Homo sapiens: one gene and its partners. The protein of the gene in region 3 purifies or fractionates together with the protein of the main gene of each other region. This does not show direct contact. Each region holds a gene or a part of one and is shown on either strand. Other genes may lie near its edges.

Region 1 (7,387 bases), on a different chromosome or scaffold from region 3:
GTTTTAAATGATCATGAAATACCAATTCCAGTAAACACAAAGTACTTCTACATTTGAAACAGATTGCCCAAAAGCCATTTAACCTCTTGCAACAGAGCACGTAATGATTTCTGCTAGATGAATAACAACTAATGGTGACGTTCTAAAAAATCTGGTTACTGTTTACTTTAAAAAAAAAACACATACATACTTGAGTTTTTTGGGTAATTATTCAAAGGCTGGTTTAAATGAATTTTTCACGTAGAGGGTGATTTACGCCGGAATTCCAAATTCTAAAACAAACTGCAAAGTAGATGACTACACATATTAAGTTCTTTGACATTTGTATTTTAGTCACATCTTTTAGGACAGACGGAGATGGAGAATCTAATTACCAAACAAATTAAGACCAGTTAGCGGAATGCCACACTCAGCAAATCCCTGTGGTAGAGGCTACCTCAGCAGAACTCGGAGTTTTGATGACTGTCCAAGTGCCACAATGTCATGATCTACATTTTGGCATTAAAAAACACATTTTCTGGTGGCTTTCCTAACTACAGTCCTGTAGGTTTTGTTATATCTGGCCATATTTAACTCTGAGATTTAATGCGCCATTTGTGGAGGTCAGGGCTGTGAGAAACAAGACCTCTACTTTTGAGTATTGTGAAACCATCACTATTTCACCGCCAGCTACCCATGTCCTTAACCAAAAGTTAACACTTTATCCTAACGACACTCACGTACAATTATATTTGAGAATATATAACTCCTATTTGGAGGAAGTGGGGGTGAGAACAGCAAAGGCTTCATCAGTCTCAGCTAGCAGTCAAGGGCATGAAGGAAAAGAGAAAGGATGACAGCACCCAGTGCTCACCTGCGCTCCTTTTGCCTATACATATTCAGGCGCCGGATGGTGGCCCGGTCCCTCATGTTTTGGCCTCCTGCTCCCTGCACTCGATCTACAAAAGGCAGAAGTACACAGTGCACTATTTGATAACCAACCAGTATAACCAACAAGTCATTGCTTAAAATGCAACAAGTAGTTCACCCAAATTAGGTAAGAAGCCACCAACCACAAAAATCTCTACTTTCTCCATATGTTGCTCCAATAATTAGTACTTGAAGCTACATGGTATGACAAAGCTGACCCAATCTTTGATCTTCGATAGGATTGTATTTGAGAAGAATAGCTAATATTTTTGAGCACTTATGATGGCACTGTGTTATCCAAATTATAGGCATCATCTGATTTAATCTATACAATAATCCTATAGATATATTATCCCCATGCTGCGGAGTGAGAAACTGAGGCACAGTGGTCAGACACCTTGCCCAAGGTCAAACCGTTACTAAATGGCAGAGCCAGAATTTGTACATGAGCATTTGATCACCATCTATGGTCTTAACCACGAAGATACCTACCTCTGTGTCTCAGTTTAACAAATATTGAGTGCCTGCTCCATGCAAGGCACCATGGAGACTATAATTTTGATATATGTGTTCTTACTTTCTTAATGTTTGATTTTTGTTTAATCAACACAGCAATTCTTGCCTTACATCTCAAAGAGAAAGAGAAGGACAAACGAATAGGGTAATACTAGCCTAGCTTCTCATTTTGGGAGCCCTTTATTTACCTATTTATTCATTTATTCATTATTATTATCTTTTTTTTGAGACAGAGTCGTGCTCTGTCACCCAGGCTGGAGTGCAGTGTCGCGATCTCAGCTCACTACAACCTCCACCTCCCCGGTTCATGCAATTCTTCCACCTCAGCCTCCCGAGTAGCTGGGATTACGGGCATCCGCCATCATGCCCGGCTAATCTTTGTATTTTTGTAGAGAGGGGGTTTCATCATGTTGGTCAGGCTGGTCTTGAACTCCTGACCTCGGGTGATCCGACCGCCTCGGCCTCCCAAAGTGCTGGGATTACAGGCGTGAGCCACCACACCTGGCCAGGAGCCCCTTAAATCACCTGTCTGGTCCTGAAGTGATACAGTAGAAGACAGGCTGAAACCACAGCCCATTGGCTCTCCTAACAGTCTCTAACAGTAGAAACTGGCGGCTCTACTACTACTCACTAACTGTTGCAATTATGACAGGCCACTTCCTGTATTTTGATTCAGTCTCTTCACCTGTAAAATCATAATCTCTAAGGGCCTTTTGGGGTCTAACATTCTGAGATTCCAGTTTGTGCAAAGTGAATAATTTATTATCAATCCGGAATAAACATTCAACTTGCATTAAAATTGTCAAAAATTCTAAACCATATTTTAAAACAAAGTTTTATTAATTAAACCTGAATGGAAGGAACTCTCCCATAGGATGTCTTGTTAATCGTACAGGTGGAACCTCGCCAAAACTTACACACATCTCCTAAACAGCCTTACTGCAATGATCATACTGACTTCTTTGTAGGGTTCTCTAAGCACTTTACCAGATAGAATAATTCCAAGGGCCAAAACTATAAGCCCTTTCTCATTTTAAAGGTCAAAGCTAAGGTGGCAGGCAAGTATGATCACGTGTAAAAGGCCCGAAGGGTCAACCTACACCATTTTTAATCTGACTTTCTCTGCATCTCTCAACTGGAGAGGACCCAAGGCTGTCAGCCTGAGTGTTCACTTTCCTTGACTTCAGACCAGTTGACTACACTTTGGCCTGCCAGGCGTGCACTGAGCCCTCCTCAGTTCCCCCCTGAGAAGAAACCACCACAAATATTGCTTTCCTTTTTCCCTTTTCATCCCCAACAGCCACCCCGCTCGTAGTCATTCTAAGCAATGCCACTCGAGTAACCCTCCTTCCCCTCCAGTGCTCCTCGGAGCCCTTCCCTATACTTCCTCCAAGCTCCACCCTCGATCAGCCCTGCCGCCTGTACCTGGGTTTGTGCTGGCCTTGGACGGGTTGATGGTGCTCCGTCCTTTGTACTTGGGCTTCACCATCTTGGCGACGAGACCGGGACCGGAGTGCGAGGTCCGGCTTACGTGGTGAAACAAACTTTTATGTTCCCAAGCCCGGCCGAAGACACCCGCCTGAACCACGCCGGACCACGTGTGCACGACGTACGTCACTTCCGCTCGCGTCCCTCTCGGCCTCAGAGCGACTTCCTGTGAACGCGCGGCGCGCGCCGTCACCCTCCTGGCTCCGCCCCCGCTCCAGCCGCCTAGGCGTCGCCCTGCGTGGAGCCCCAGCCCGCTCCAGCCCTAGCAACCGCCAAGCTGCCCGTTCATAGCAACCGCCTAGTTAACCTGAACGCGCGGCCAGAGCTCCCAGTTGGGTCCACCTCCGAATAAAGAAGCTTCTTCCCAGGCCAGTGGCACAAGCTTAAGTTTGTCTTCTGAATTTGTCTTCTAAGTCCTTCCAAAAGTTGCCGACCACACAGCAGCCAAATATCCGTTAGGAGGTGTCATTCTCTTCCTTACAACTCCAGTGGCTTATCATCACTCTTAGAATGAGAGGTAGGGGAAGGGAGAAGGGAGAAACAGACAGAGACAGAGATTGATTCAAACTTTTTGCCATCCCTACAGGATTCTGTGATCTGGCCCCTGCCTGCCTATTTATCTAATCTCATGTGTACGTCCCTCCCTCTGGTTATTCTGACATTTACACTGGATATTCTCTCTGCCTGAATCACTCTTTCCCAGAATCTTTGCATAGCTGTCATTCAATCCTAAGCTCAAATATCACCTATTGGTAGGCCTGCAAGAATTAGCAAATAGAAATACAGGACACCAAATTAAATTAGAATTTCAGAGAAAAAAAATGAATACTTTTCTTTAGTACACCTCCAACAGTGCCTGGAAAATACTTAGACTAAAAAAGTATTCATCGTTTGCCTGAAATTCAAATGTAACTGTACGTTCTGTATTTTATCTGGTGACCCTTCCTGCTGTGAGAACTCATTCCTGTCTAATTTGTCTAAATCAGCCACCTTTCACCCTTTCACAGTTATTCTGTTACAGTATTCTGTTTTATTTATTTCATGGCATTTATCACTAGTTGAATTTTTTTTACAAGTTTATTGGCTGCTTCCCCCAAACTAGAATGTAAGATTCTTAAAAGCAGGGACCTTGTTAATTTGTTCACTGCTGTGTCTTTAAGACTTGAATAGCATCTGAAACAAAGGACTCAAAAAATATTCATTAAGTGAAAGAATGAGTAGATGGGAATGTCTCTTGCCTTGAGGATGAAGGAAGGCATTAAGACCCAGTGATTTCTGTTTCTACTAGCCAGAATAAAGTGTCTAGATGCCAGTGTTTGAACCAAGAAGCCCTCTCTCTTTTTACAATTTATTTTTTGTTTGTTTGTTTTTGTTTTTGTTTTTTGAGACGGAGTCTCGCTCTTGTTGCCCAGGCTGGAGTGCAGTGGCCCGGTCTCGGTTCACTGCAACCTCCACCTCCCGGGTTCAAGCAATTCTCCTGCCTCAGCCTCCCAAGTAGCTGAGATTACAGGCGCATGGTATCATGCCCAGCTAATTTTTGTATTTTTAGTAGAGACGGGCTTTCACCACATTGGCCAGGCTGGTCTCAAACTCCTGACCTCAGGTGATCCACCTGCCTCAGCCTCCCAAAGTGCTGGGATTACAAGTGTGAGCCACCTCGCCTGGTCCCTCTCTCTTTTTTGGTACCTCAAATTGTCAGAAAATGGCCATCTTTGTACCCTCTGGATAGGCCAAAGAAGAGATGGTTAGGCAAGAGGAAGGGTGGATTCATGCAGTGTAGCTCATTTCATAAAAACAAACAATTTGTTATAAAGTGAGGTATTCTAATTGAGCAGGGGATGATTGAGTCTTTATTTCTCTGAGTTTGAAACAAACCCCAAAACATTCTCTTTAGAGCAAAAGCAGGCCATGTCATAGGCTAGAGCTGGAAATACCTTCTGTCCCTCAAGCTTCGCTTTTATTGCCCCAAGGGCAAGTATCATGAGATTAAATGCAGCTCTGCTGGGAAGGCCCTGACTGTGACCTGTGTTAGGGAAGCTCTGAGAGCTATTTGGAAAAAACTTCATGATCAGTGAAGATGCCCCCTTCCACCCCACACTGTCCCTCTGATCCCCAAAACAAGGATACCATAGCCTCCTCCCAGAGAGAAGATTCAGTTAATGTGTTTCTGATGCCTCAAGTTGGTGCAAACCAGAATAAACACGGATGGCAAAAATCAGCCTATGAGCTCATTCAGGCTTTGATCAGAGACATAATTTCATTATGAAATTTTGAATCAGGCTGTTGTGAAGTCTTGCCAAGGAGTTTCATTTTCCCAGATGATATGGTGGGTTGTTTCTCTCCTGTTCTCATACTCTGCTTGCATTTATCTTACAAACTTTCCATCTATTTTTATAATCTGACCCATCAATCCTTTTACAACAATATTTGCCGATCTCGACAACCAACTTCAATTCTACCAGCAGATAAAAAGCCTGATCAAGGTAAGTCAAGCTTAAGTTACTGGTTTGATTTGCCTGCCCTGCTTGCCGCATTGTAATGCAGTGACTATTTTTCACTCTCTTTTCTGATGTCATGCCAACTAGCAGAGGCAAGATACACCTCCAGGTCTACAGTTCCTCAGCTTTAAAACAGATGCAATAGCTTAACTACTCTGAAAGACTGCAATAAGATCATATGAGTTACAGTATATGAAAGCATCGCAGACATGGTACACATCATGCAGATGGGATGCTTTCTATTTTTCTTCTTTTTTTTTTTTTTTTTTTTGAGATGGAGTCTTGCCCTTTCACCAGGCTGGAGTGCAGTGGCATGATCTCAGCTCACTGCAAACTCTGCCTCCTAGATTCAAGCTATTCTCATGCCTCAGCCTCCCAAGTAGCTGGGATTACAGGCACGCACCACCATGCCCAGCTAATTTTTGTGTTTTTAGTAGAGACGGGGTTTCGCCATGTTGGCCAGGCTGGTCTCAATTTCCTGACCTCGAGATCTTCCCGCCTCGGTCTCCCAAAGTGCTGGGATTACAGGCATGAGCCACTGCACCGGCCAGGGATGCTTTCTATTTTTCTCAAAATCCAAGGTGAGCTACTCATCCCCTCAAATGTTGCTCCTGGTAACCACAGGTTTGTGTGAATGAGAAGACCTTAATGGATGGAGACTGGCTGGAAATGCCATGTTCTGGACTGGTGTCTTCACAGGAAGCAGACAATCCTGACCTTACTTTTTTTTTTTTTTTTTTTTTTTTCAGATAGAGTCTTGCTCTGTCACCCAGGCTGGAGTGCAATGGCACGATCTCAGCTCACTGCAACCTCTGCCTCATCAGTTCAAGCAATTCTCCTGCCTCAGCCTCCCGAGTAGCTGGGATTGCAGGCACCCACCAGGACACCCAGCTAATTGTTGTATTTTCAGTAGAGATGGGGTTTCGCCATGTTGGCCAGGCTGGTCTTGAACTCATGACCTCAGGTGATCCACTTGCCTCAGTCTCCCAAAGTGCTGGGATTATAGGCATGAGCCAGTGTGCCGGGCCCTGACCTCACTTTTATCTTCATTCTGTAAAAAGTTTATCACTGGGGTCTAATGGGCAAATAGCAGCAGCTTCTAAAGCAACATTTTTTAAAGTGTGGTCTGAGAACCACAAGCATCAGAATCACTTGGGGGATCTGTTTTAAAATGCTGGGCATGGTGGCTCATGCCTGGAATCCCAGCACTTTGGGAAGCAGAGGCAGGTGGATCGCTTGAGCGCAGGAGTTCGAGATCAGCCTGGGTGACATGGTAAAACTTTGTTTCTACAAAACATACAAAAATTAGCCAGGCGTGGTGGCTCAAACCTGTAGTCCCAGGTACTTGGGAGGCTGAAGCTGGAGAATCTCTTGAGCCTGGGAAGTGGAGCCTGCAGTGAGATCGTGCCACTGCACTCCAGCCTGGGTGACAGAGTGAGATCCTGTCTCAAAAATAAAATAAAATAAAACAAAAATGCAGATTTCTGGGTTTTATCCCAGAGCTTCCAAAATCAGACCATCTTGGGGGTGGGGCCAAGAGAATCTACATTTTAGCAAGCTCCTCAAGTGATTCTTGTATATACAAAAGTGAAGTCTTTTCCAAGAGTCACTCGGAGGCTTTCTGACCTGCTGACCAGAAGGCAGCCCTGGAAGATCAAGCTTCTTTCCTACCTATCTTAAATCATCTTGTTCTTCTTAGCAGAGCCAGGGTGAGGAAGGCTGCTGCAGTGTCTAATGCACTCTGAAAATATATATCTTGGCTCTGCCCCAAATGCCTTGATATTTATGCTGCAGCCGGAGGGTCGTTATCCTTTGGCAATGCTCATTTGTAAGGCCATTAGCTCTTAATTAGTGCCGGCTTGTTGAGTTGTACTTCCCAGTTGAACTGCTAGCAGAAGCTGCTCTTTTGGGGCCTCTTGTGTCTCTCCTCTGGCAAGCCCATGAAGCATTGACCCGTGCCTGCTGAGGCCAAGAGT
Region 2 (7,031 bases), on a different chromosome or scaffold from region 3:
TTAAGCGATCTTCCTGCCTTGGTCTCCTAAAGAGCTGGGATTACAAGTGTAAGCCACCACACCCAGCCTTCACATGGATATTTCTTATTAAGAGAGATCATGAGACTAAAGTTCTAAGAAGAATTAGAACAGATGAAGGAAGTAATAATAAAATTTCATTAAGAGCAGTGGTATCTTTGTCTTGATTATTTGGTACCTAACATAGTGCCTGTGTCATAGTGCAATATGCGTCACTTAATGATGGGGATACATTCTGCAAAGTTCATTATTTGGTGATTTTGTCATTGTGTGAATGTCATAGTGTACTTATACAAACCTAGGTGGTATGGCCTACTACACACATAGGTCATATGTGCTCCTAGGCTACAAACCTGTACAGCACAGCATGTTGTTATACTGAATGTTGTAGGCAGTTGTAACATAATGGTAAGTATATGTGTATCTAAGTATTTCTAAACATAGAAAAGGTATAGTAAAATGCAGTATAAAAGATAAAAAATGGTACAACTGTATAGGGCAGATCCATTGTAATCTTCTGGGACCACTGTTGTATATGCAGTCTGTCACTGACCAAAACGTCCTTATGCAAGTACATGGCTGTACTTTTTTTTTTTTTTTTTTTTGAGACGGAGTCTTGCTCTGTTGCCCAGGCTGGAGTGCAGTGGCACTATCTTGGCTCGCTGCAACTCCGCCTCCCAGGTTTACGCCATTCTCCTGCCTCAGCCTCCCAAGTAACTGGGACTACAGGTGCCCGCCACCACGCCTGGCTAATTTTTTGTATTTTTAGTAGCGACGGGGTTTCACTGTGTTGGCCAGGATGGTCTTGATCTCTTGACCTCATGATCTGCCCGCATCGGCCTCCCAAAGTGCCGGGATTACAGGTGTGAGCCACTGCACCCGGCTACATGGCTGTACTTAATAAATGGATGCCACCTATCCCTTCCACTCTGTGTCAGGCTGTTGCCATTTGCAATGTTGTCTTTGGTTTATCTGTGGGAGTTTGGGATCTCACTGAATTGTGTCTCCTTGTGCAGGTTGTGCATTTGCCCAGTTCATGACTCAAGAAGCAGCTCAGAAATGCCTTCTAGCTGCTTCTCCAGAGAATGAGGTAAGGAAGATATTTCCTTTACCTTATAACACAGGAGGCAGTTTGGCTCTTAGGGGCAACATCTGGTATTTATACAAAGCTTTATTATTATTTTTCTTGTCAGTAATAATAAAACTAACACTTATTTAGCACTTTGTGTTAGGCACTGAACTTTACATGCATTATCTTAATCATTACATCAGCCCTTTGAGGTAGGCAGAATTATGATCTCTACTTCATAGGTGAGGAAAAGGGGATAATAACGTATCTGATATTTGTTGCTTGCTGTCTGTGTCAGCCTCTATCCTAGACTGATAACATGAAAGACTAGGATGAGGTATTAAGGTCGTCTGTGAAGTAGAGTAGATGTTTGAGAGAGAATGTGTGTGGGTGATGGAGAATTACTCCATTTGTTCTATAGTCGAGTATAATGTTATCTAATATTGCTGTTATTTCTTAAGTCCTCTTGAGTAAGTACTCTACTATTTCACTAGCTTACTTTACAATACTAGACATTTGCCTGGTTACAGATAATTTTCCTCAGTTTGGGTCTACTTTGGGACTAATCAACTCCCAGAAAATAAATTCTTTACTGCTGACTGCCTGAAATACACATGTGGCCTTTTGCACAGCTATACTAAATATTGTGAGGCCCAGTGATCCATTTGTAGCTAGCTGAGCTGAAACGTCGTAGGGCTTGGCTTCCATAGCGTAATTGATGTTTGCTGTATCCCTTTCTGTGGTGTTCTTGTCAGGTGCTTAGTTTCTAGTTTCTACTCATTATGTGTTGTTTTGTTTTGTTATTTTTTTATTTTATTTTATTTTTTTTGAGGTGGAGTCTCGCTCTGTCTCCCAGGCTGGAGTGTAGTTGCGCGATGTCCGCTCACTGCAAGCTCCGTCTCCCAGGTTCATGCCATTCTCCTGCCTCAGCCTCCTGAGTAGGATTACAGGCGCACACCACCATGCCCGGCTAATTTTTGTATTTTTAGTAGAGACGAGGTTTCACCATGTTGGCCAGGCTGGCCTTGAACTCCTGACCTCAGGTGATCCACCTGCCTCAGCCTCCCAAAGTGCTCGGTTTACAGGTGTGAGCCACTGTGCCCGGCCATTATGTGTTTTAAGAAAGGGTTGTGATCTGTTACAGGCTGGTGGGCTTAAACTGGATGGCCGGCAGCTCAAGGTTGACTTGGCGGTGACCCGTGATGAGGCTGCAAAGCTTCAGACGACGAAGGTGAAGAAGCCGACTGGCACCCGGAATCTCTATCTGGCCCGAGAAGGCTGTGAGTAGGGAGATGTAACCCACACTTCTAAGTACCTGGCCCTGTGCCATAATCATTGATCAAGCAATAGTATGCCTGGAAGCATGTTTCAAATTAAAAACCCAAATGTTCTCTTTAACAGTGTTATATGATCATTCCACTTTAATAAATGTGGCTCTCTATTAGTAAACCTTCACTCGTTTTTGTGGATTAACTGTCCCATTATCTTTTCTGCCTGGTTGCCTTTAGTCTTTTTCAATAGAGGATTGGCAAGGCAAAGGGGGAGGAAGAACTCAAAATACCTTTGCTTCTTGTCATCATTTCTAATAAGAGGTTTTCATTATGACTAAAATTACTCTTTTGGATTATTCATGGATTTAAAATGTGCACCCAATACTTTCCTTTAGTGTCAGAAAGACAAAAAAATTAGCTTTAAATTTTTAAAAAAATTCTTCTAGGTCACACAGCATTTATCAGCTCACCTCCTCCATAGCTTCACAGCCTGTACTAGTAATGTCCTTTAGCCTTCGACACCAGCCTTCTATGGCAACATAACTGTTTTCGGCTGGCTTATCTCACTGTTTAGTAATGGACCTCAAGTATATAAGGAACAGCAAAGTTAAGTTCCAAGGGCAGATTATAGGTGGAACATTGTGCATTCTAAATGCCCAAAATGTACTTATGTTCCATACTTCTTCTAGGCCTTTCTTTCTGACTTTGGGCATGTACGTGAAGATTCTTTGAGGGGAGAGAAGGAGAAGAGGAATAAAATCACAAAATGTTTAGAGTTTTAGTCCTTGAGAGCAGCTCTGAGCCCAGAACTTAGCCCTGTAGCCTATTTCTGGACCTAACCAAATGCCACCGTGTCCTGGCCAAGATAGTCCTCTGGGCCCTGTACAAAGAGTTTGCATCATTCAAATCACATTCCTCTTGTTGCTCAGTGAAAATTCCCTTGTTGATGTCTTGGCCTTTTTCCCTCTTTCTGCAGTGATTCGTGCTGGGACGAAGGCTGCAGAGGGTGTGAGTGCTGCTGATATGGCCAAAAGAGAACGGGTGAGTAGATTAGGCATTGACCTTCACGTTCTGCGTGGCCTATAAATCAATCAAAAATAGTTATCGAATGCTAGATGTGCTCATCAAAGAGCCCAGTATGGTCACAGACCATACTTATTGCCCTGTTAGGGAGAAAAGCACATAGGTGAAATAGCAAGTAACCCAACATCATACATAGTATTCTATCTGTTTTGTATGCTGGTATAAAAGAACTGTGTCTTATTATTTGTTTCCCTAGTGCTTGGCAGTAAATGTTTGCTGAACACATGCTGCTACATCATGCAGTAGACAGTCAGAGGCTATTGCTACATGTAATTAGGTGTCAGTATAAACACAGAATAATGTAAAAGAGGAAGATCAGAATGAGCTGGAGTTATTAGAGAAGGGAGAAGATATGGCTCTTGAAAGGGGTAGCTGTCAGTTGGGAGGAGTTATAATCTCCAGATTATAAAATCATTTTAGAAAAACTCCATTTTATGGATGTTTCCGATGTTAACCGATAACTCATATTCCTTTGCTGCTTGGTAATGTTCCCAGTAATTTTTACTTTTTCCCATATAACTTACTTTCAAAAAGCCAAGCCAGCCTAGAAGGGTAAAGATGCATAACTGTGAACAGAATTAGCTATGGAACCTTAACATGCAGATGAGGAACAGGGGTGAGAGTGTAATGACAGCAGGAGGCAGTGCGTCTTTTTTTCAGTGGGCACAGATTCTGCACTAGTGTTTTCAACTTTTGTGGTAGTGAACACCTAGAAATCATAGGCTCTGGAGACCCATCCTTAACTGGAGAAATTACAGAAAATTTTAAAGCCTCAATTTTATAAGGGCACTATATACCCTTGTCTGATCACAGTGCAATAATGACATATTTAATTTAAAACTAATTTTGTTAGCAAAAAGCTCATTCAATGATAGGTATGCATTATAAATTCACAGCAGGCACAGCTTTTCCTGACAGAAAAATAGTCTGTTGAACTTAAACATGATAGCCTTTTCAGATGTTCCTTTAATAGTCGTTTTCCAAGGGATTTGTTTATTTTGTGATCTGTTGGTACTTTTACCAAACAAGAAGCAGCAGGACTGAGAAGACTTGACAAAAGAAAAACTTTTAATTGAAAACTTTTTTCTACCAACTTGGTTTAAAAAAAACTAATTGGGAGAAGAATGTCATCTTTCATTTCATTTTAGACACAGATCACGCAGGAACTGGGGTTTTGTGGCAGCATAGTTGAGGGTATTGCTCTAAGAGCAAAATATGGTTCTGTGGTCATTGATACTCCTTTGCCTCAGGGTGGCAGAGTTGAGACAACACAGCATTCTGTCAAGTATTCTTTGAATAACTTCCATTTCCTTTTGGAAGGATTAGATAATCAGTTGAGCTGGTGGGTAGATGAGGACTGGGCATAGATATTAATCACAGTATTATTTGTTGTTTGTTCTGAGCTACATTTTGAGCTAGGGAATTTTTTTTTTTTTTTGACCGAATTTCACTCTTGCTGCCCAGGCTGGAGTGCAATGGCACGATCCTGGCTCACCACAACCTCCGGCTCCCAGGTTCAAGCGATTCTCCTGCTTCAGCCTCCCGAGTAGCTGGGATTACAGGCATGCACTACTATGCCTGGCTAATTTTTGTATTTTTAGTAGAGACAGGGTTTCACCATGTTGGCCAGGCTGATCTTGAACTCCTGACCTCGGGTGATCTGCCTGCCCTGGCCTCCCAAAGTGCTCGGATTACAGGCATGAGCCACCCTGCCCAGCCTTATATTATCTCATTTTGGCCTCACCTCAGTGCTCAGAGACCTTGATCTACTGTTTCGTTTTATAGATGAAAAATTGTGGCTTTAAAATTTTATGTAATTTCTCCAGTTAGGGATGGGTCTCCAGAGCCTATGATTTTACTATTACCCACCCACCATCTTGTTCCCTTGGACTTTTCTTTCCCTATACTAGGCATTGTAAAGCTGCGGTGTGGGCAGTTTCCATCCGTTTTCTATATGTGTGGTTATGGGATGAGGATCATAATTCTTTCCTTTTGGAGAATTATGAGCCTACCTCTTAAAAAGAGTGGGTTGTACTGTTAACCATTGGTTGTTCTTTCAGTTTGAGCTGCTGAAGCATCAGAAACTCAAGGACCAGAATATCTTTGTCTCCCGAACCAGGCTCTGCCTGCACAATCTCCCAAAGGCTGTAGATGACAAACAGCTCAGAAAGCTGCTGCTGAGTGCTACTAGTGGAGAGAAAGGGGTGCGCATCAAGGAGGTGAGACGTGGCCCTGACCATTTTGGAGCTTTCATTCTGATCTTGGGTCAGATCAAGCATTTCCCTCAGGCTGTGGTGCCAGATTTTGTTTGTTTGTTTTGAGACGAAGTCTCACTCTGTTGCCCAGGCTGTAGTGCAGCGGTGCAATCTTGACTCACTGCAACCTCCTCCTCCTGGGCTCAAGCAGTTCTCCTGCCTCAGCCCCCTGAATAGCTGGGACTATAGGCGTGCGCCACCACGCCTGGCTAATTTTTGTATTTTTAGTAGAGAAGGGATTGCACCATGTTAGCCAGGCTGGTCTCGAACTCCTGACCTCAAGTGATCTGCCCACCTCGGCCTCCCAAAGTGCTAGGATTACAGGCGTGAGCCACTGTGCCGGGCCATCAACAGACTTTCTTCTGGACATGTTGTCAGCATGCATAGCTGAGTTTAGCAGTTTCTTGGTTTTGTTCTTTTTCTTCTAAGAATTGTCTTTTACATCTGACTGAATTACAGCAGAATGCAAGGAAATCTCTGTCTGCATGAATTAATTTAGCAAGCATTTATTAAATGCCTGTTGTGTGCTTAGCATTATACTTTGTGCTATCATGTGAATTTTCTTGCAGAGAAAATAATCTGCTTTGCTTTTTGGAAGAGTATTTTACTCCTAGTTAGATTCTTACCCTGTGTTCAGAGTCCCCTATGCCTTGTGGTCAACACAGGAAGCCATGTAGATGTTCAGCAGTTGAATTAGAAAAACACTGGGTTCACACCAACTTGGTTAGACTCTGTGTGAGTACAGAACTTTTCTGCCTCCACATTCCCCTTTGCGTATTTCTCTTTTCTTTTTTTTCTTTTCTTCCTTTCTTTTTTTTTTTTTAGATGTGGTCTTGCTCTGTCTTTGGCTGGAGTGCAGTGGCACCATCTCGGGTCACTGCAAACCGCCACCCCCCCCCCCCCCAAGCTCAAGCAATCCTCCCACCTCAGCCTCCCAAGTAGTTGGGCCTATAGTTACACACCACCATGCCTGGCTAATTTCTTTCTTTCTTTCTTTTTTTTTTTTTTTTTTTTGAGACGGAGTCTCACTCTGTCGTTAAGCTGGAGTGCAGTGGCATGATCTCGGCTCAACGCAACCTCCGCCTCCCGGGTTCAAGCGATTCTCTTGCCTCAGCTTCCCGAGTAGCTGGGACTACAGGCATGCACCACCACGCCCAGCTGATTTTTGTATTTTTAGTGGAGACGGGGTTTCACCATGTTGCCAAGATGGTCTCGATCTCTTGACCTCAAGTGATCCGCCTGCCTCGGCCTCCCAAAGTGCTGGGATTACAGGCGTGAGCCACCTCGCCCAGCCCATGCTTGACTAATTTCTTGTTTTTGGTAGAGACAGGGTTT
Region 3 (7,031 bases):
GTGAAGGCCAAAGTCGAGGTGTGCAAAGATGAATCCGTTGGTGAGTTTTTGAAGGACTCTTCCCTTCTTGCCTCCTGGGACCCATGAGCTTTGTTTTTCTAATGAAGGCCATAATTGTTCATAGTTCCTAGTTGTACTTGTGAGCAAGGGGCTGTGCACCTCCACTGTTGGTGTGGCTGAAAGGCTTGTCTTCCTGTCCTTGCAAGAACCTGCCTGGGTGCAGCACCCTAGGCTCCTGTCTGTGGGCTCTGTGGTGTCTGCATGGCTGAGGCTGCTGGGGAGATGGCTGCTGGCACTGGCAGTGGGCCGTTTTCTCTCTGGTTGTTTGTATGATCTTTCCCTAAGTCTTGCTTTTTCAGTAGGATGTGCTCATGTGGCATTGTTTTGATTTGTCTTGATGAGCTCAGTGAGCCTCTTTAATCCATGACTCAGTGTTGGGAAACTGTCACCATTCTGTGGATAGTTCCCTCTTCAATCCTGCAATTGCTTGCTGGATGTGTACTGGTGTTTCCCATTCTCTCTTCCATGTCTTTTAGCCTAGTCCCGCCATTTAAGTCTTAGTTCTCTCTTCAGGTGTGGCAGGTCTCTGTGAACCCACCTGCTGGATTACTTTCAAAGAGCACTTTCCATTTTCTAGGTTTCTATTTGTCTGTACATCACTACCCAGCCTGTCTCATAACTCCGTGGAGTGTGGGGTGCCCTAGAAGAGCCTGTGATGGGGGCTGTTGCTGAGGATGGGGAAGTGGCCCGGGAGGAAATGTGACAAATGCGAGGCCCTGTGCAGGGAGCTGCCTGGGTGTGTTGCTGACTACAGAGGTGGCCAGGATGGCCAGAAGGAAAAGAGTGAGGTGGTCAGAGAGGTGGCGGGCGCATGGAGCCCGGGTGCTGCTGGCATTCGGGCACCTGTTTTGATACAGGGAGGAAGTCCCGAAGGCCATCTGACTTTTTTAAGCTGTCTTTTTTCCTTTTCATTTTTGTATTCTTCCTGCCCCAAATAAAGTAAAAGAACATCTCAGAAATTCATCCAGAAGGGACCTGCCAGAATAATCTGAGCTGGTGTAGGGAGGCCTTCATTCTTTGCTTCCCTCCCCTTTGAAAGGGACGGGGAAAGGAAATAGTGTCATGTGGCCTGGGCCTGCCCCATGCACTGGGCTGTGAGAACCTGACTCCTATGTTGGAAGTTAAGTAATTTGTTTCTCTGGTAAATCTGGGACAGATCTCGAGGAATTTCGAAGCTACCTGGAGAAGCGTTTTGACTTTGAGCAAGTTACTGTGAAAAAATTCAGGACTTGGGCTGAGCGGCGGCAATTCAATCGGGAAATGAAGCGGAAGCAGGCGGAGTCCGAGAGGCCCATCTTGCCAGCCAATCAGAAGCTCATTACTTTATCAGTGCAAGATGCACCCACAAAGAAAGGTATAAGCCTCTGCATTTTAACATCAGCAGACTGGTTATGCTGTTATTTCTAATGTGATGTGTTGAGGGCATGTTTTATGAGTTGCATTTCGTTCAAAGTTTATGTTTATCCCATGAATGCAGGGGTCTGCCACATTCACGGTCGTGAGCCCCTAGTTACTGACATGGTAACAGGAAGCTGTGTGCTAGCTTGTGGCACTGCTTCACACTTGCTGAGATGGTTCTTTTTGTCACAGAGTTTGTTATTAACCCCAACGGGAAATCCGAGGTCTGCATCCTGCACGAGTACATGCAGCGTGTCCTCAAGGTCCGCCCTGTCTATAATTTCTTTGAATGTGGTAAGTCTAACCTTCCCCATTTCAGTCCTAAAGAATCACAAGGTGTAACTTTGGTCAGGGCTGGGGAGGCAGGCGCTGACCGCTAGCCCTACTCTACTGGAACGGGAGGAAAGGGAAGGGTAGAGAGCAGCGTGCTGCAGATGGGTGGCTTGTTTCCTGGAGCCGCGCCCCATCTGAGTGGGTGGCTCTGCTTTTCCCTTCCAGTCTGTCCCCTCTCCCCACCTTCCTCTTGTCCTGCCCCATCTGCCTTGCTGGTTTCTGATCCTGCGTTGTCATGGACAGCCTTATTGCGAGCAAGGCCTCCCCACTGTGCACTGGGTCCTTTCCCTGGTCTCCTGGTGCCCCTGGGTGTCTGAAGGGTTCTTGGGCATGCATTTCCCACCAGCTCTGTCTTCCTTGGGTGCCCTCATCACACCTTTGTGAAGACCAGTCTGTCTTCCCCTTGGAAGCTGGAGCCTGGGGGTCACTCATCCTTTGAGGTGGTGTTTCTTTGGCAAGCCACATCTTGTGCTTTCCCATTCCGGCAGTCCTGTGTCCGTCTTTCGTAGACCTTGGTCCCTGTCGTAGGAGGCTCTGCCCCCAGCCTCCTGCTGCCCCTCTGGCTCACCATCTCCCACGTGCCTCATTTCCCTCCACTTTCCCAGCTGTGCCCTTTGCTGCTGCTTGTCTGCTGCCCGTCTCCAGTCCCAGGGAGCCCCAGGTCTCTGCAGTCAAGCACAGGCCCACTCTCTGCAGGGACAGCCCCTGACTGCGCCTTGTCTGTCGGTGTGGGCAGACTGTGCACACGCTTTTGATGTCTTGACTCGTATGTTTTAAAACAAGTAATTTTAATTTTAAGAGAACCCAAGTGAGCCTTTTGGTGCCTCGGTGACCATTGATGGTGTGACTTACGGATCTGGAACTGCAAGCAGCAAAAAACTTGCGAAGAATAAAGCTGGTAACGTGCTTGCTTGGGTGTCAAAGATACGTGCTGCCTGCTGTGTCTGCCTCGCTGCTTGGTTAGGGAGGGGCTGAGCAGTGGTGACAAGTGGGGGATGTGGGTGGGGCATGTTTATTTTATTTATGTAATCATCTACTTTGATTTTTAAAATTACATGCTCATTGGAAAAGACTCAAATAGAGCAAAATGTGAGACTTAAAAGTAGAAGGCCTCGGCCGGGCGTGGTGTCTCATGCCTGTAATCCCAGCACTTTGGGAGGCTGAAGTGGGCAGATCACGAGGTCAGGAGATCGAGACCATCCTGGCTAACACGGTGAAACCCTCTCTCTACTAAAAATACAAAAAATTAGCCGGGTGTGGTGGCGGGCACCTGTAGTCTCAGCTACTCGGGAGGCTGAGGCAGGAGAATGGCGTGAACAAGCGAGGCAGAGCTTGCAGTGAGCTGAGATCGTGCCACTGCACTCCAGCCTGGGCGACAGTGCAAGACTCTGTCTAAAAAAAAAAAAGTAGAAGGCCTCTCTACTGAGTGACAGCTGGGCCAGTATGTCCCTCCCTAGTCCTGGCCCTGCACATATTCAGGGGTGTGCCTAGAGCCAACTGGGCTGTGCTGGGCACATGCTGTAGTGCTTGTTTGTTTTTAAACTGAGCAGCATGTGGGCATGCCAGGAGGGAGGAGAAGCGGGCCAGCATGCTGTTGGCATCCTCCCCCAGTGGTGCTGGCTCTTACCGGCACTATTTCCTGAGTCCTCCCACTCCATGTTTGGGCCTAGCCACACAGAACACCTGGCACAGCGCAGCTCTGGGAAGGCTGTGTGTCCTGGCGAAGACCCACTGCCCTTTTGGACCATGCCCTTGCCGTTTGCATTCATGCCCTGCATTCGTGGTAGTTGACATTCTTTCACAAAAAGCCATTTGCCTCAGCGTCCAGGGTTAGTTGGCTTCTTGTAGGGTGGTGTTGGGTGTACCCCAGGCCCTCGCACCCACAGGTTGATTCTCGAGGTATCTGTCATTGCCGTGTGTTTTCCAGAAGGCCTGCTGCCCATCTTAGATTCTGCCTAAGAGACTTTTGCAGCTCAACAAAGGGGGTGTGGTGGAGGTTTTGACAGATAACTTGCAGTGGGGCCTTTTGTGGGGGTGGAGATGCCTTGGGCGTGGCTGTGTGCTCTTCCCTCTGCGGGATCACCCGCTTTCCTCCCTATGTGCTGGAACCCACTTCCCTTGCCCAGACTCTTGGCTGCCCTATAGACAGCTTGGCTCCATGTCTTGCCAGCACTGATAGCTCTGTGGGGTCTATGGAGCCATCAGCCCTTGGCTATGGCAACTCCGACCCCAGTGGGCATATCCGTGCCCTGCCCTCTAGCAGCTCCCTCTAGCGTCTCTCAGACCTGGCTGCATCTCTCCACCCACGCCAGCCACTGCTGCTGCCACCTGGTCTAGGTACCTGCAGTAGCCTGCTCTCAGGCCTCCCTGCATGGTCCAGGGCCCGCAAAGCTGTTTTCTCACGTGCCACCGAAGTGGTTCCCTAACATACAGCTCCGAGCTCCTCCCTGCCTGCTCCCAGGACCCCAGGGTGAGAGCGCACACACCCAGTGTGGCCCGTGAGGCTTTCTGGTAGCCTGCCACACGTCTGGGCTTTTCCTTCTGTCCTCTCCTGACCCTGTCACTGAAGTGCTGTCTCTCCTCAGGGCCCTCGCTCAGCCTCTGAGCTGTGGGGATGGGAGGCAGCAGTGCACAGTTCACTCTGCAGGGTGGTGAGAAGAGGGCAGTGCCCAAGCCTCACCCTCGGGCTCTTTTTTTTCATAGCCCGAGCTACACTGGAAATCCTCATCCCTGACTTTGTTAAACAGACCTCTGAAGAGAAGCCCAAAGACAGTGAAGAACTCGAGGTGAGTGTTGTGGTCCTGCCCTGCTGGGAGCTGTGTGTGCAGTGCGGCTACCCTGCCCTGTTAGTGTGAGCTGGGGGTGTCCGTGGGCTGTGCTCATGCCTTCCATGCCCTGTAGGTTAGTCTCATCCAGCCTCCAGGTTCTTCTGTTTGTATTTCATAAAGAGGAAACTTGCCTGTCTTTGTATAGGCAGGGAAAAAATGTCCTTTTTGTTAGAGATTTTTGTCCTCTTTTGCAGCATTGAGTGTGCACCGTAAATGTCGGGTACACATAGGTTTGTGATGGGAATGAATCTTTGAGGCAGTCTACAAGATTTAGATTGTTCTTTTTTTTGAGACAAAGTCTTGCTCTGTCACCCAGGCAGTGACAGAGTTTGATCTTGACCCACTGCAACTTTCACCTCCCGGATTCAAGTGATTCTCCCACCTCAGCTTCCTGAGTAGCTGGGATTACAGGTGTGTGCCACCATTTCTGGCTAATTTTTGTATTTTTAGTAGAGATGGGGTTTCACCATGTTGGCCAGGCTGGTCTCGAACTCCTGACCTCGGGTGATCCACTCGCTTCCGCCTCCTAAAGTGCTGGGATTACAGGCATTAGCCACTGCGCCCGGCCCTAGATTGTTCTTTATATACTTGACCCTTGAGTAACGTGGAAGTTAGGGGCACCAGCCTCTCACGTGGTCGAAAATTCACGCATCACTTTCAGTCCTCCCAAACCTTAACTACTTACTGGTAACCTACTCTTGACCAGAAGCCGTACCAGTAACAAACAATTGATTAATACATATTTTGTTATGTACATATTACTACATCTGTCCCCAACCTAGTTTTGGCACCAGAGATCAGTTTCAGGGAAGACAATTTTTCCACAGACGGTGTTGGGGGGCGGGGATGGTTTCAGGATGACTCAAGCACATCACATTTATTGTGCACTTTTTATTTCTATTATCACTACACTGTAATATGTAATGTAATCACTATACAACTCACCATAATATAAAACCAGTGGGAGCCCTGAGCTTGTTTTCTTGCAACTAGATGGTTCCCTCTGATGACGATGGGAGACAGTGACAGATCATCAGGCATTAGATTTGCATAAGGAGTACACAACCTAGATCCCTTGAATGCACTGTTCACAATAGGGTTCACACTCCTATGAGAATCTAATGCTACTGCTGATCTGACAGGAGACAGAGCTCAGGTGTAAAATGAGTGATGGGGAGCAGCTGTAAATACAGATTAAGCTTCACTTGCTCACTTACTCCCCCTGCCCCCACCACTCATGTCCTGCTATGCAGCCCGGTTCCTAACAGGCCATGGATTGGTACCAGTCCATGGCCTGGGGGTTGGGGACCCCTGATATATACTGTATTCTTACATTAAAGTAAGTTACAAAAAGAATGTTATTAAGAAAATCATAAGGAAGAGAAAATTTATTTACTGTTCTTGAAATGGAAACATCATCATGAAGGTCTTCATCCTCCACATCTTCATGTCGAATAGCTGAGGAGGAGGGGGAAGAAGAAGAGTTGGCCTTGGTATCTCAGGGGTGGCAGAGGCAGAAGAAAATTTTTGTATAAGTGGGCCCATGGAGTTCAAATCCATGTTGTTCAAGGGTCAGCCATGTGAAGAACCATTTAAAACTAGCTGTAAACCTTTTTGGGTAAATGGTTATTTGTAGCAAGGGCTTGTGGAATTTTGAAGGGTGCATTCTTATTTATATAATAGCTTTATTGAGATAGTTTACATACTATAAATTTGGCCTTTTAAACTATATAAGTGGATTTTTATATATTCAGAGTTGTATAACCATCATAACTACCTAATTTTAGAGTATCTCAACACCCCCAAAAGAAACTCCATACCCATTAGCATTCCCTCTTAGTTCTCTCCAACCACCAAAAGCCACTAATCTGCTTTCTGTCTCTATATATCTGCCAACTCTGGACATTTCATATTAGCGGAATCATACAATATGTGGTCTTTTGTGACTGGCTTCCTTCACTTAGTGTGCTATGTCAGCTGTAGGTTTTTATCAGAATAAGGAAATTTCCTTTTGTTCCTGGTTTGCTGAGAGTTTTTGTAGGAATGATGTTAGATTTTGTCAAATGTTTTTCTGCTTCTATTCAGATGATCATGTTTTTTTTTGTCTTTTATTTTAGTAATATAGTGTATTATATTGGTTTTTGAATGGTGAGCCAACCTTGCATTCCTGGGATATATCCCACTTGGTCATGACATATAATGATTTTTTTAATATGTTGCTGGATTCATTTTGCTGGTATTTTGTTAAGGATTTTTGCATTTGTAGTTATAAGCAATATTGATCTGTAGTTTTCTTGTGATATCTTTGTCCAGTGTAACAGCAGGTACAGGTATCAGGATAATACTGGCCTCATAAAATGGTTGGAACATGTTCCATTTTCTTCTGTTGTGTGGAATAGTTTGTGAAGGATT
Region 4 (4,944 bases), on a different chromosome or scaffold from region 3:
GTTCCTTGTGCAGACATCCAGTGGCAGTAAAATATTGCTGGGTTCTCAGCTTCCCCCACCTGCAGCCCTCACTGGCCCACCCAGTTGTCCTGTCTCTGCTCAGGACGAGACCCCCCCCCGCCTCTTCAGTCTCTGTAGCCAGGTGATGGCAGTGGCCTTTTCCAGACCCTCACTGGCCCCTTAGTTCACTATGATGACTTCACCTCTTGGGAACCCATGGGGATGTCTTTCCCTCCAATACATCTACATTTGCCTGACCCAGAATGTAGTTTCAAGATGGGTCCATGCCTGGCTCCAAATCCCCTTATCAGAGTAAGGAAATACCTTAATTCCTAGTTTGCTAAAAACTCGTTATAAATGGCTGTCGCGTCATTTACTGTGTTCCTGTTCTGCAACCATTGAGATGGTCACGTGGGTTTTGCTCCTTTAATCTATTGATATGAATTACACTCTTGATTCTCTGGCATTGAAACTGCTTTGCAATTCTGAATTAAATCCAGTGTGGCACTTTGCTAAACTTGGTTTATTATTGTCTAAAATCTTGACATTGGTATTTGTAGGGACCAGCCCCACAGGGTCCGTGGGTCTCTCCCTCCCTGTGTGCAGCAATGAGAGAGTGTAGAAATACACACACAAGACAAAGAGATAAAAGAAAAGGCAGCTGGGCCCGGGAGACCACTACTACCAATGCTCGGAGACCGGTAGTGGCCCCGAATGTCTGGCTGCATTGTTATTTATTGGATACAAAGCAAAAGGGGCAGGGTAAAGAGTGTGAGTCATCTCCAATGATAGGTAAGGTCACGTGGATCACGTGTCCACTGGACAGGGTGCCCTTCCCTGCCTGGCAGCCGAGGCAGAGAGAGAGAGGAGACAGAGAGAAAGACAGCTTATGCCATTACTTCTGCATATCAGAGACTTTTAGTACTTTCACTAATTTACTACTGCTATCTAGAAGGCAGAGCCAGGTGTACAGGATGGAACATGAAGGCGGACTAGGAGCGTGACCACTGAAGCACAGCATCACAGGGAGACGGTTAGGCCTCCAGATAACTGCGGGCAGGCCTGCCGGATGTCAGGCCCTCCACAAGAGGTGGAAGAGCAGAGTCTTCTCTAAACTCCTCCAGGGAAAGGGACACTCCCTTTCCCGGTCTGCTAAGTAGCGGGTGTTGTTCCTTGATACTTTTTGCTACTGCTAGACCATGGTCCACCTGGCAACGGGCGTCTTCCCAGACGCTGGCGTCACCGCTAGACCAAGGAGCCCTCTGGTGGCCCTGTCCGGGCATAACAGAAGGCTCGCACTCTTGTCTTCTGGTCACACCTATGTCCCCTCAGCTCCTATCTCTGTATGGCCTGGTTTTTCCTAGGCTATGATTATAGAGCGAGGATTATTATAATATTGGAATAAAAGGTAATTGCTACAAACTAATGATTAATGATATTCATATGTAATCATATCTAAGATCTATATCTGCTGTAACTATTCTTGTTTTATATTTTATTATACTGGAACAGCTCGTGTCCTCTGTCTCTTGCCTCGGCGCCTGGGTGGCTTGCCGCCCACAGGTATTTGGTAACTTCCCTTTCTCTTACCTAGTTTTGGTATCAAAGCTAAGTTCACGAATGAAGTGTTCTCTCAATTGATTCTGTTAGAATTTGTCTACGTCTGGAATTACCTGTTCTCTATATCGTGGAACTTCCCTGTAAAACCGTCTAGGGGAACATTCTTAACTACTGACTCAATTTCATCAGTGATTACAACTCAGGCTTTCTATTACTTTTAGTCAGTTTTGGAGATTTTTCTTCCATTTACTTTGAGTTGTTCCAACTTAAGCTGCATGCTTATTTTTCTTTAGCTTTAAAAATACAGACATACAGCGTATGTGTGTATAAATGGCACTATTTATCTGTAGATGCACATACATTTAGGGGCTATGTTTTTTTGTGCTGCTTTAGCTCTGTTCCACAAATCTTAAATTTTTTCTTTTTGAGACAGTCTTGCTCTGTCACCCAGGCTGGAGTGCAGCGGCTCGATCTTGGCTCACTGCAGCCTCTACCTCCTGGGTTCAAGTGATTCTCCCGCCTCAGCCTCCCAAGCAGCTGGGACTACAGGTTTGCACCACCACACCCAGCTAATTTTTTATTTTTAATAGAGATGGGGTTTTATCATGTTGTCCAGGCTAGCCTTGAACTCCTGATCTCAAGTGATCCACCCGCCTCCCAAAGAGCTGGGATTGACAGCATGAGCCACCATGCCAGGCCCTGTTCCACAAATTTTAATACGTAGCATTTTCATTATCCTTTAGTCCCAAATATTTCTAATAGCCATTCGGAATTCTTTAACTCATAGGTAATTTATAAGTGTGTTTTAAAAATTCCAAATATGAAATGCCACTGCACTCCAGCCTGAGTGACAGAGCAAGACTCTATCTAAAAAACAAAAAAAAATAGCTCAAATTTTTTTTAATGACATTGGGATACGGTCAGATAACGACACTGATTCCTTGAAATATCTTAAGACTTCTTTTCTGGACAAAGTAGGTGGTCAGTTTCCATCCATGTTCCATATATGCATGGAAAGAGTATGTATTCTTTTCAGATACTGTTGTGTCTGTCTCTCAGCTCAAGCTCATGCTCACCTCACATCCTATCTTTCACAGGGCTTTTTCATCAGTTGCCTCTGTCTGGTAACAGTCACACCAGCTCCTGTTCAGTTACAGTCTTTGTCTCATAACCGGAGAGTTTCATCAAAAGAATTTTATTTACAGCTTTATCATCCATATGCCACTAAAATTCACCTGTTTTCTTTCAACCTGCACTCATTTTGATTGCCTGGAACTCTGGATTTAATTCTTCCATCCCACTTTGTATCTTGCATTCACTTCACTCTCTCTCCAGCTTTTATTCTTTCTTTCTCTTTCCCTAGGTCCAATGCACTTGACCCAACTCACATGCGTGGACTCCGGGAAGGTACTGCTCCCTCCCTCCAAATTCTGAGCAGTAAAATGCCGCCCCGGGGCACTGGGGAACAGAAAGGAATGAGACCCCAACAGGCAGAAGCCAAGAGAGCGGGGAGGAGCCATGGCGTTCTGCCCCAGGATGCACCACGCCTGGACGTGCTCCCCCGACTCCCAGTGCCAGGTGCCCATATGCCACACCTCAGGGTTGTCCTCTGTTCGGGTGAGCTGCGGACTAACGTGGCCCGGCAGCAGAGGCCACCGTCTTCTGTCCCGTGGCTCCTGCGAACACAGGCAGTGGGGAACAGGCAGTGACTGCCCACCCCCACCGTTCCTCCTCCCTGACCCTGCAAACCTCGGGGAAGCTTTCAGGCCCGGGAAAGCAGACCAGGCCCCAGTCTCCCTCACCCTTTCCCTGGGTCTGAAGGTCCCGGATCCTGCGTTCAAGGATGACGCTGAAACTCTCTCTTTCTCACATGGGATCTGTGATCTGGGCCCTCACAACTCAGCAGAGCACCACTGTGTCCCCCTCACATGGAGAGGCCGAGGTCTGTGGAGATCCTGGGACAGAGCCAGCGTCAAGGACTCAGAGGGTGTCCTGGAGTCTCCTAGGACGGAAGACGGCGGCCCCAGGTGGGAAAGACTCAGACCAGGCCTGCGCGCTCCAGGTCCTGCGGCAGGATGCGGCCCTTCTTGCGGGCTCTGAGCAGGCGGCGCTCGGCGCGGGCCGCCTTCTTCCTGCGCAGGTTCTGCCGCCGCCGGTCCTGGCGCTGCTGCATCTTCTCCACCACGCCGGCCGTGCGCTTCTCCCACCGGCGCTGCCGCTGCGCCCTGCGCTTCTCCTTGCGCTTCAGGGCCTCCTGCAGCAGGCGTTCGTCGTCACGGATCTTCACGCCCTCCGCCTTGTAGAGGAGGTTGGTCCACTTCATCTTCGCCTCCAGCTCCTGCGCCTTCCCCTCATCCTGGCCGCGCAGCTCGTCCAGCCGGCTCTGCCGTGCCTGCAGGCGCTCCAGCAGCTGCCGGTAGTTCCTCCCGGTCAGCGGCGTGAGGTTCCCCTTCACCCTCTGCCTCTTCTCTTTTCTGCGCTGCGCCTTGCTGGCCGGCTCGTCTTCGCTCACCTCCACCTGGGAGGAAGGTATGACATCAGCTCATGCCAGCCCTGCACTAGGCCCCAGCCTTGGCCAGTACCCTAAGGGACCTGCGAGGTCCCCGTCACCACCTTACAGACATGATGGGGTTCGGAGAGAGATCATGAAGCTAACAAGGGGCAACGCTGAGGCCTGAAGCCGACCCAGCCCGCCCAAGGACCCAGCTCCCGCTCACCTTATTGAAGATCAGCCCGGGCGGCTCCCGCGGCTCCGTGCAGGCCCCCTCTGGGGTTGCCTCCACCACCTCCTGGGCCTCCGTGGCCTCCTCAGCCTTCCTGGCCTTCTCTTTCGCCCGCAGCTCCTTTCGCTTCCTCTTCTTCCGGTCCCGTTCCTGCTTTCTCCGCCGCCTTTTCTCCAAGGCGGCAGGGGACAGCTCCTTGGCACTGCCCTGGGGGAAAGAGGCACCCACTCATTAAAGTTCTCTCGATCCCAGGGTCCCCCAGCCTGGCCCATAGTCGAGAAGAATCAGGGCTGGAAGGCAGGTGAGAAAATCCTCACGCAAACAAGGGGCCCGCGGAGTTCAATGTTCCACCATGATGTTCCCCAAAAAGCAAATGACCCCAAAAGAGAGAAGGGACCCCCAAATAAGAATCACAGCTTCCAATTCCCGGGTGCTTACCCCGTGCCAGGATACATTACGCACATGGTTTCAAATGTCATACATCGTTTTATAGATGAGGAGGGTCAAGACCACTGCCTAGAACTTGGAGTTGGCGTCTGAACACCTGTCCTGACCGCTGCCCATTCTGTTCACGAGGTACCCAACGAAGCCCTCCCCAATGGCCTTTCCCATCCCCGGGCCAACAAGAGCCCTACACCAGCCCAAACGAGACCTGTGCTTC

Evidence for each region.
Region 1: the proteins of DGCR8 (region 3) and GNL2 purify together in Homo sapiens (affinity purification with mass spectrometry; 2 studies listed by BioGRID and IntAct, with this or other methods). This does not show direct contact.
Region 2: the proteins of DGCR8 (region 3) and RBM28 purify together in Homo sapiens (affinity purification with mass spectrometry; 2 studies listed by BioGRID and IntAct, with this or other methods). This does not show direct contact.
Region 4: the proteins of DGCR8 (region 3) and SURF6 purify together in Homo sapiens (co-immunoprecipitation; 3 studies listed by BioGRID and IntAct, with this or other methods). This does not show direct contact.

The regions. Positions count from the first base shown.
Region 1 is NC_000001.11:37,592,909-37,600,295, forward strand, and holds the start of GNL2 (nucleolar GTP-binding protein 2), read right to left. Parts: upstream 3,030-7,387; 5' UTR 2,915-3,029; coding exon 2,851-2,914; intron 939-2,850; coding exon 854-938; intron 1-853. UniProt on the Homo sapiens protein: GTPase that associates with pre-60S ribosomal subunits in the nucleolus and is required for their nuclear export and maturation.
Region 2 is NC_000007.14:128,319,895-128,326,925, reverse strand, and holds part of RBM28 (RNA-binding protein 28), read left to right. Parts: intron 1-1,034; coding exon 1,035-1,108; intron 1,109-2,231; coding exon 2,232-2,367; intron 2,368-3,334; coding exon 3,335-3,399; intron 3,400-5,501; coding exon 5,502-5,660; intron 5,661-7,031. UniProt on the Homo sapiens protein: Nucleolar component of the spliceosomal ribonucleoprotein complexes.
Region 3 is NC_000022.11:20,090,219-20,097,249, forward strand, and holds part of DGCR8 (microprocessor complex subunit DGCR8), read left to right. Parts: coding exon 1-40; intron 41-1,216; coding exon 1,217-1,414; intron 1,415-1,650; coding exon 1,651-1,752; intron 1,753-2,590; coding exon 2,591-2,689; intron 2,690-4,494; coding exon 4,495-4,577; intron 4,578-7,031.
Region 4 is NC_000009.12:133,328,271-133,333,214, forward strand, and holds the end of SURF6 (surfeit locus protein 6), read right to left. Parts: intron 4,491-4,944; coding exon 4,278-4,490; intron 4,079-4,277; coding exon 3,599-4,078; 3' UTR 506-3,598; downstream 1-505. UniProt on the Homo sapiens protein: Binds to both DNA and RNA in vitro, with a stronger binding capacity for RNA. May represent a nucleolar constitutive protein involved in ribosomal biosynthesis or assembly.